Linked DNA regions of Homo sapiens: region 2 is reported to be linked to region 1. The links are microRNA targets in miRTarBase. Many come from high-throughput screens and were not tested one by one. Region 1 holds a microRNA gene; the other region holds the end of a gene's coding sequence.
What was found. The annotated mature microRNA hsa-miR-6807-5p reads GUGAGCCAGUGGAAUGGAGAGG and lies in region 1 at 1,821-1,842, opposite strand. An mRNA with a match to its seed (bases 2 to 7 or 8) in the 3' UTR can be bound and repressed. Matches are read on the target gene's strand: a 7mer-m8 pairs with bases 2 to 8, a 7mer-A1 pairs with bases 2 to 7 and ends in A, and an 8mer does both.

Region 1 (4,000 bases):
GGATATGAAGGAGGAGATGATGAATGATGCCATTGATGATGCCATGGGTGATGAGGAAGATGAAGAGGAGAGGTATGGGGAAACTGGATGGGAGGGTGGAGATGTTTGCCTGGCCCTCACGGAGTGCATAGCCCTCACTGAGTTCTCTCTCTTCCCTAGTGATGCTGTGGTGTCCCAGGTTCTGGATGAGCTGGGACTTAGCCTAACAGATGAGCTGTCGAGTGAGTGCTCCAAATCCTGGACCCCATTTCCCACCCAAGGCCCAGCCACAGCTCCAAGCCCTCCCTTTCCCTGCATTACTCCCCTCCGCTGCCTGACCCCACCTGCTCAAACCCCCACTTTCTCTGCAGACCTCCCCTCAACTGGGGGCTCGCTTAGTGTGGCTGCTGGTGGGAAAAAAGCAGAGGCCGCAGCCTCAGCCCTAGCTGATGCTGATGCAGACCTGGAGGAACGGCTTAAGAACCTGCGGAGGGACTGAGTGCCCCTGCCACTCCGAGATAACCAGTGGATGCCCAGGATCTTTTACCACAACCCCTCTGTAATAAAAGAGATTTGACACTAGTCTCCAGGCCCATGTGACTTTTGGCCTGATGTGGGACCAGACTGGGGTCCCTGGGAGGATGGGCATCACTAAGGCAAGAGGCACTTGGTACTAAGCTAAGGGTGGGGGTTTGGGGCAGGGGTGAACAAGCAAAGTCCACCTGGGATTTTCAGGAGCTGGGAGCTTCAGGTGAGCTGTGGGCCCTTCTCCATCACCTCTCCCAAGATACTGGACTGCCCAAACACCCTGGTAGGATCTTGAGAGTCCAGGCCTCATCTGCCAGGCTGTAGTGTCCAACACTGTTTGGTCCAGTGATGGTTTAATGACAACACTCAAGGACAGTCCAGACCAACCAATAGAGGCAAGGGGGTGGCCTTGGGATTCACACAGGCTCGACTGTAGAGTAACTAAATCATAACACAGAGATGAATGATAATGTTAAGTGGACTCAGCAAAGGGAGACAGGGAAAAAAACCACATCTGGAAGGTCTCAGTTCACTGTGGGACCTTCTGAAGATGAGAAACAGCTACAGCACCAAAATTTAGGAAGCATTCAGTAGAGTGGCTGTGCTACACCTGGGGCTAACCCTGCCTACACAGGGATGTAGGTCACACCTACCCAGTATCCCACAGGGTACCCAACAAGCCTCTAGTGTGTACATCCTTTGCCCTGGGTGACCCTCCCCATACCCAGAAAGGGCAAGGAGGCAGTCTTCCCCACTCCCTAGGCATCCATACACATGGGCTTCGATAGGTGGGGGACAAGACCCCCCTCCCTTGTGCCACCAGTGCTTGATAAGGCTGACTAGTAGATACAGTCAATAAACCAGGCCCCAGGACCACAGTCCCCCAACCAGCCAACGCCTGAGGAACTGGTGAAGTTTTTATTAAATCCACAGAAGTAAAAACCATATCGTGAGGAACTGGGGGATGGGGCCACCAGGGAGTGGGAGTCAGGCCACCAGGGGAGTGGGGATGGGGTGACAGGACAGAGAACAGAGCCAGGCTGGGCTGGCCATGGGGGCTCCAGCCTCAGGGGCCATCACCAGGGCCACCAGACAGCTCCTGGGAACTCAGGCCAGCACCAGGCAGGCTCATCGGCGGGGGCTCCACCAGCACAGCAGAGAACTTGGTGTCACCGAAGGCCTCGTTCATGCGCGTCTCGAAGAAGCGCTGCAGGCCGATGATGGACTGCACGTCTGCCTTGTCCTGGGCCAAGCAGGAATGCAGTGGATGAATGGGTCCTAGTTCTTTCCTTCACATCTCCCCCTGCCCACAGCCTCTCCATTCCACTGGCTCACCTCAGTTAACTTGTTGAATTGCTTGAACATGCGGCCCACATCCTGGGCAAACTCCTGTGGGGAGCTGTAGGGAGGTGACAACTTCTCCTGGAGGCGGGCACGGATCAGGGTCAGATCCAGGGTGCCACCGGGCTGGTCCTGCAGGCAGAGATCACACATACACACACAAAGACACACATATACATGCACAGGTTGAGGGCGAGACCCAGCAGCCACCACCCCCTTCCCCTTTCCCATCCTAGGACTCACCAGGGAGAAGGTGGAGTCGGTAGCCAGCTGATGCAGGGGGCGGCAGGGTTCGTGACAGAATAGGGCCAGCAGTACACGCTCACATTTCTACAAACATTGTAAGGGATGTCACAGCTCTGGGCAGCACCTATAAAGCCTCTCTGGGCAACCCCACCTAAGTAACCCCAGCCCTCACCCGCTGGTTGGCTGGTGAGAGCTTGGCCACCACGCCAGTGCTGTCTGCACCATCCAGGCTGAGGCTGCCATCCTCCTCCTTCAGGTCAGGGAGCACATGGCAGAGTGAGCAGCTCCACTCCTCCCTAGGGTGAAGAAAATAAGGGTCTGCACATGATCCTGTCCAGACAGCCCAACACCCAGACTTGACCCCCACCAGCCTCACACTCACCCTGGTACATCCTGCAGGGCCGGCAGGTGACAGTCCAGGTGGAAACAAAACTCACACTGGTTGCACATAACCAGATCGCCTGGCTTCTGGCAGACACGGCAAATGGTGGCACTGTCATCCAGGGTTCCCGGGCCACCACCTGGGGCTGAGGTACCCTCAGGAGCCACCACCTCCAGCCCTGAGCTGGTGCTGCCACTAGGTGAGGCCAGGCGGGGACCCTCAGCACCAGGACCCTCCGCAAGAGCCATAAGCACAGGTTTGGTCTCAGGGCCCTCAGTGGCAGTAGGAGGGGCTCCAATGGCAGCCTCCGTCTCCTCCTCCTGCAAGGTGGTGATGAGGGGTGTTCAACAGGGTCCAGACCTGGACTACAGGCTTCATCCTACAGCTATAGTTCCTTGGGACAGGCTTACCTTGACAATGGCCATGCCAGCCAGGGGTGGGGCACCAGGGGTTCCTGCAGGCGCAGTCCCTGGCTGGCCGGTAGCTGCAGCGGCAGCGCCACGTTCAATAACAATAAGGTTGTAGTCCTCAGTGGTACTGCCTGGGAAGACCTTGAAGACGGGTGGCTGGCTGTCAGCTGTGAGGTCCAGGTCCAGGCGTTCAAGGCTCACTCGTGGCACCTTGCGCATAAGGCCGCTCACCTCGCCCTCACCTGAGCGGGACCTGTAGATGCAGCAACCTGGCATGAGTACACCCCCACCCTCCATCCACCTCACCCCCAGGGGAGGTGCCATACTTACCGTTTCACACCTGACACATGGGGCTCTGCACTTGAGTAGGGATCATCTCCTTAGAAAATGGAGAAAGAAGACTGGCAGGTTGGGGTAGAAACAGCACTGGGGCCCTTCCCCACCCACTAGGCAGACCCACTCACCTGACCCAAAGCCATAGCCTTCCTGCACCTCCATGGGCTGTGAACAAAGCAGAACCCTCTGCCTCAGTGGGACAGGAACCCTACTGGACCCCATTCCCTGCCCACCCCCCCTGCCTGGGTCCTCTCTCCTGCTACTGGACCCCATTCCCTGCCCACCCCTTCCTGGGTCCTCTCTCCTGCTCACCTGGCTGCTGCCAGAGCCCTGCTTGCTCAGGGGCCCTGGGGCTCTTGGAGGGGCCATGGGTGCAGGGCCTGTTGAGTTAGTGCCAGGACGCTCTGCCACAATCTTGCCTGCAAAAAGAAGAGAGAAACGTAAGTAGGTGCAGCACGTGGGGTAATAACAGAGTGAGGTAAAGCTGGGGACCCACCAAAGGCCTCGGCACTCTTGGTCCAGGCATTGAGGTCCCACTGAAACTTCATCTCGCCATGTGGCTCCACGGGATCCACAATCATCTTGAGGGCCCGGTGCAGCTGGAAGTAGATCTGGTTGGGAGTGAAAGGGAGGAAAGAATGAGCACACCAACAACAAATAGGGATTTGAGGTATTGGGAACCACCTGCCTGGAACCCACCAGCCAGGAGCCCACCAGTACACACCAACTTCTTAGAAAGCAAAAGGGCTGTGTTGTTGTCACTCTCCAGAGCCCAAGA
Region 2 (4,290 bases), not on the chromosome of region 1:
CACTGCCCAGGGAGTCTTGTTGGAATGCCATCGCTGATACAGCTTGATCTTTAAAAAAAAAAAAAAAAAAAAAAAAATCTGTACATTCATTACTCACTTGAGCCCAAAGGTCAATATATTCAGTAATAATCAGAAACCATGCTAAGAAGCAGGTTAATATTTACCTGGAGAGGCTGGTCTAAAGAGTCCTGTTTCAAATAGCTAAGATCAAAACACGGGAAAGAACTGAATTTCCAGCAACAGTCTCAGGTTCAGTTTCCAGTTTAGCGGGGAACAACACTGAATGAAATGACAGTTGAAATGTCTATACTAATTTTCATTTCGTATTTTGTGCACAATCTATTTTATGGTGCAAATTCTGCCTTTACTTCTCCAGTGCTTTTTATCCTCCCTCTGAACTTATTCATAAAACTTAGGGGCCAAGGGTAAGATCTAGGTCAGCCACATCTTTCATGTTCATCACAGGCATTCTCTTTCAACCCGTATTTTGGTGCCAGAGGAGCTACCATTACTTTGGTGCACAGAACCAACAAGAAAAAAGATCGCAAGGTTGCAGAATCCAGTGATGAAAACAGAGGCAATAAGAAGTAACTGTCTTCTACCATGGTGAAGCAGATGTCAAAAGAAGCTTGTAACCACTGCTAGGGTCTGGCACTCCTGCAAGCAGGCACTGATGTATCTAGTCACCATGAACACCAAAAATTAACTAGAAACTCTTCCCTTTTTTACTTTGAAACGAGTCGGTCAAAGACATGAACATTCAGGTAGGGTAACAAGCACATGTGTGAGAATAGTTTTTAGGTCCTTCCTTGTCAGAGGAAAGCTGATAACACTGGAGAAAAAAAATGCTCATGTTCTAAAGCTACAAGATTTTTAAAGCAGCAATGAGCCAATGCATTTATAAGAAGAGTAGAAAATTGTAAACTATAAAATTTGGTTAGGGTCAAGAGAAAAGGTTCAACTAAAAAGCCATAAAAAAGACAAAGCTAAATTCATCTGGAATTCTAGAACAATGCTGATACAGTTAAGTGATTATAGTCACCATAATATTAAAGATTTAAGATGTTCAATGCATGAATATTTGATTTTATTTCAAAAGACAATTATTTATAACACTGACCCTCTATCAAAAAGAATATGCTTTTCTGATGGGGAAGTGACAAAAAAAAAAAACTACACAGAACAAGAGTAATAAAGTTCTCAAGTAAGGATTGCACTCCAATAGGAATTGAGTGATTCTCTCAGAGAGCACTCATTACATCTTAGACAACGTCACTCTTCTTTCCTCTTGGCCATATGTTCAGGTCTCATAGTCTTTCTGAACACAGAATGGCAGTGGCCAGCATTGTCCATTATCTATGTTCCGCTTGTTTACTAATTAAAAAGCTTTGGTCTTCAGTGTTGTAAACGCAATTTCTGCCTTCGATATCAAAAGGTGAGTGAATGAGACAAGATTAGTTGAAGGAAGTACTTGATATTTTACTCCAGATAGCTGAATGAAAATGGGTATTCTCCCTTGTACTTTGGAGTCCATCGTTTCCTACTCCCAATGCTCTCACAGACAGTAAATAAAATAGTTTAACTCGCAAATCTTTTACAAGGATGTTCAAAACAATATTCTAGAGAAAACTTTATTGATGGTTGAAAACAAAATAAAATACACATAAGGTTCCCTTCCCATCTCTAATATGGAAAATAAAACACTTAATATGAATACTCAGTTTTAAACTTTGCTCTAAGTTTTATTTTATTTTATTTTGAGATGGAGTCTTGCTATTGCCCAAGCTGGAGTGCAGTGGCGAGATCTTGGCTCACTGCAACCTCCGCCTCCCAGGTTCAAGCGATTCTCCTGTCTCAGCCTCCCGAGTACCTGGGACTACAGGCACCTGCCACCATGCAGGGCTAATTTTTGTATTTTTAGTAGAGATGGGGCTTCACCATATTGGTAAGGCTGGTCTCGAACTTCTGACCTCAGGTGATCTACCTCCCTCAGCCTCCCAAAGTGCTGGGATTACAGGCATGAGCCACCACCCCCGGCAACTTTTTTAATTTATATTTTATTTTTTATTGAAATAGGTGGCCCAAAACTTGTGAAACAGAACTCATGCTGAAGGACGACATTAATCATAATAATTAAAGAGACAGATATTGCTTATGTAAACCGTATAAAGAATTAAAAACAAATCCAATTCTGACTTTCAATGTTGTTTCAACACCGAAAAAATATGATGGCTTATTCTTTGGTATGAGAAGTCATTTTGATGGTATTTTTACCCTATTAAACAAAAATGGGATTTAAAAATCTGGTTCGGGATGTTCAAAGATAATTGCTAAGGCAAATTTTGCAATTTGAGAAAACCTAACTGTAATGATCCATTTATTCAGTTATTTGTTAATACTCAAATTAGTAATTTTCACTCTGAATGGTAAATAAAATGTTAATAAAAAATAACAAGACATATAAACTTTCCCTAATGAGATGCAGTTAATAAAAACGGTTGTTTACTTCAGAGTATTTACTATAAACATGTCCACTTATGTTATTTTATTGCTATCTATATACTCTTTCAGTTTACTGTATTACTGTACTTTTCTCTAAAACTTTAAAAATCTGTTATCTAAAATCAATTCTCTAATGCTAATTTTGCAGGAAAACTGTATTTCACATTATTAATCTCATTAATATAACTTTCCTATAAATAAGCATGAAACATTTGGAGGATGCATATATAATGAGTGCTTGGTTACTATAGTAGCGAATGTCAAACTAATTGCTAAAAAAAGTCTAAAGGTTTTCACACTTTGAAAAATCTAGTATATCATCTATCATTATTCTCCAATATTGTGGCAAGAATAGTCACCGCAAGTAAAAATTAAGATACTGTTGTAGAGATTAAGGCAATTTTATTATAAATTCCTGATATATTCCACCCCTGCCTGTTCTTAATCTAAATGTAATTTAGCACTGCAAACCATTTATGAAAATAAATTTATTTTAAAAGGCATAAAAGTTATTAGTGTAAAAAGAAAAAATATCTATACCTACAAAAAAGGCCAAAGACACTAATGAAGTTACCTCAGTAAAGATACTGTAACATGTAACTTGGCCAGCCAAGTTACAACACATTCCTCACAACTGTATTATGTCTCAAGGTTCTGAGGATCTGAAAGGTCTTTTGATCCACCTAAAAGTGGCCACCAACCAAATTAATTTCTCTGAAAGACATCTTTAAGCAATTATTTCAGCCTAACCTCGCTTCATATGGACTCACTCAGATGGCTCATGTTTTATTAGGGACTTGAAGGTTTAAAAATATGTAGTCAATCCAGGGCAAAGTTATGTTGTTTGCCTATTTGTAAAATTAACACATACAGAAAATAAGATTCAAACTGATATTGAAAAAGACTAACATATTCATCTAATTTTAAAAAAAAACCTACCAATAGAACAAAATATATTTTATTTTAATTATACCAGCACAGTAAGGCCCAGAAAGACCATGGAGTTGCACAAAGAATGTTCAGCACCAGCAAGATAAAACAGATACTGGCAGTCAGTGCTAACGGCTAGCACACAAGCCCCTGCCGCATTTGTATGATCTGGAGCAGAGCCTCCTGAACATCTTCATCCATGTGACCCTTCGGAGAAAGAAGAAAGAGGAGCATTATTTTATGTCATCTTTGTTTACATAAGAATTCTAAAGATAAAGCTTTTACAGAGCATAACTAGTCATTGATTCATCAAATGCTAAATCCTCATCATTGTGATTTCTAAAGGAATTACTGGAAAAGGGAGTACAGCCCTATCATGAAAATAAGATCAATTAATAAGGAGTGCACGGCCGGGCGTGGTGGCTCACGCCTGCAATCCCAGCACTTTGGGAGGCTGAGGTGGGTGGATCATTTGAGGTCAGGAGTTCGAGACCAGCCTGGCCAACATGGCGAAACCCCATCTCTGGTAAAAATATAAAAATTAGACGGGTGTAATCCCAGCTACTCGGGAGGCTGAGACAGGAGAATCGCTGGAACCTGGGAGGCAGAGGTTGCAGCGAACCAAGATTGTGGCACTGCACTCCAGCCTGGGTGACATGGCGAGACCCCATCTGAAAAAACAAAAAGACTAGTGCACAACAGCTGCTCTAACTTCCATTACCAGAAAACAAATGGATAAACCTCCCTCTTTCTCTTTTTTAATAACAGCCTTGGATGATAGGGGCAGCATAAGTTATAAATGAACAAAGTAAACTACAAGGAAATCTGTTGTTGTTGCTGCTGAGGTTTTTTGTTTGT

Region 2: miRTarBase lists UACA as a target of hsa-miR-6807-5p. Seed matches in the 3' UTR shown: 7mer-m8 at 2,021-2,027.

The regions. Positions count from the first base shown.
Region 1 is chr19:58,548,127-58,552,126 of GRCh38, reverse strand. It overlaps MIR6807 (microRNA 6807), which reads right to left and starts at 1,842; the gene lies at 1,751-1,842. TRIM28 (tripartite motif containing 28) reads right to left here. Exons shown (of 17, transcript NM_005762.3): 7 at 3,947-4,000; 8 at 3,719-3,833; 9 at 3,535-3,641; 10 at 3,351-3,387; 11 at 3,217-3,265; 12 at 2,887-3,139; 13 at 2,477-2,796; 14 at 2,267-2,390; 15 at 2,092-2,178; 16 at 1,843-1,980; 17 at 1,412-1,750. The coding sequence ends at 1,574. It overlaps CHMP2A (charged multivesicular body protein 2A), which reads left to right. Exons shown (of 6, transcript NM_014453.4): 4 at 1-72; 5 at 160-221; 6 at 351-561. The coding sequence ends at 478.
Region 2 is chr15:70,653,489-70,657,778 of GRCh38, forward strand. UACA (uveal autoantigen with coiled-coil domains and ankyrin repeats) reads right to left here. Exons shown (of 19, transcript NM_018003.4): 19 at 1,066-3,639. The coding sequence ends at 3,568. Among named protein-coding and RNA genes, the nearest start is that of SALRNA2, 20 kb to the left of the region's middle.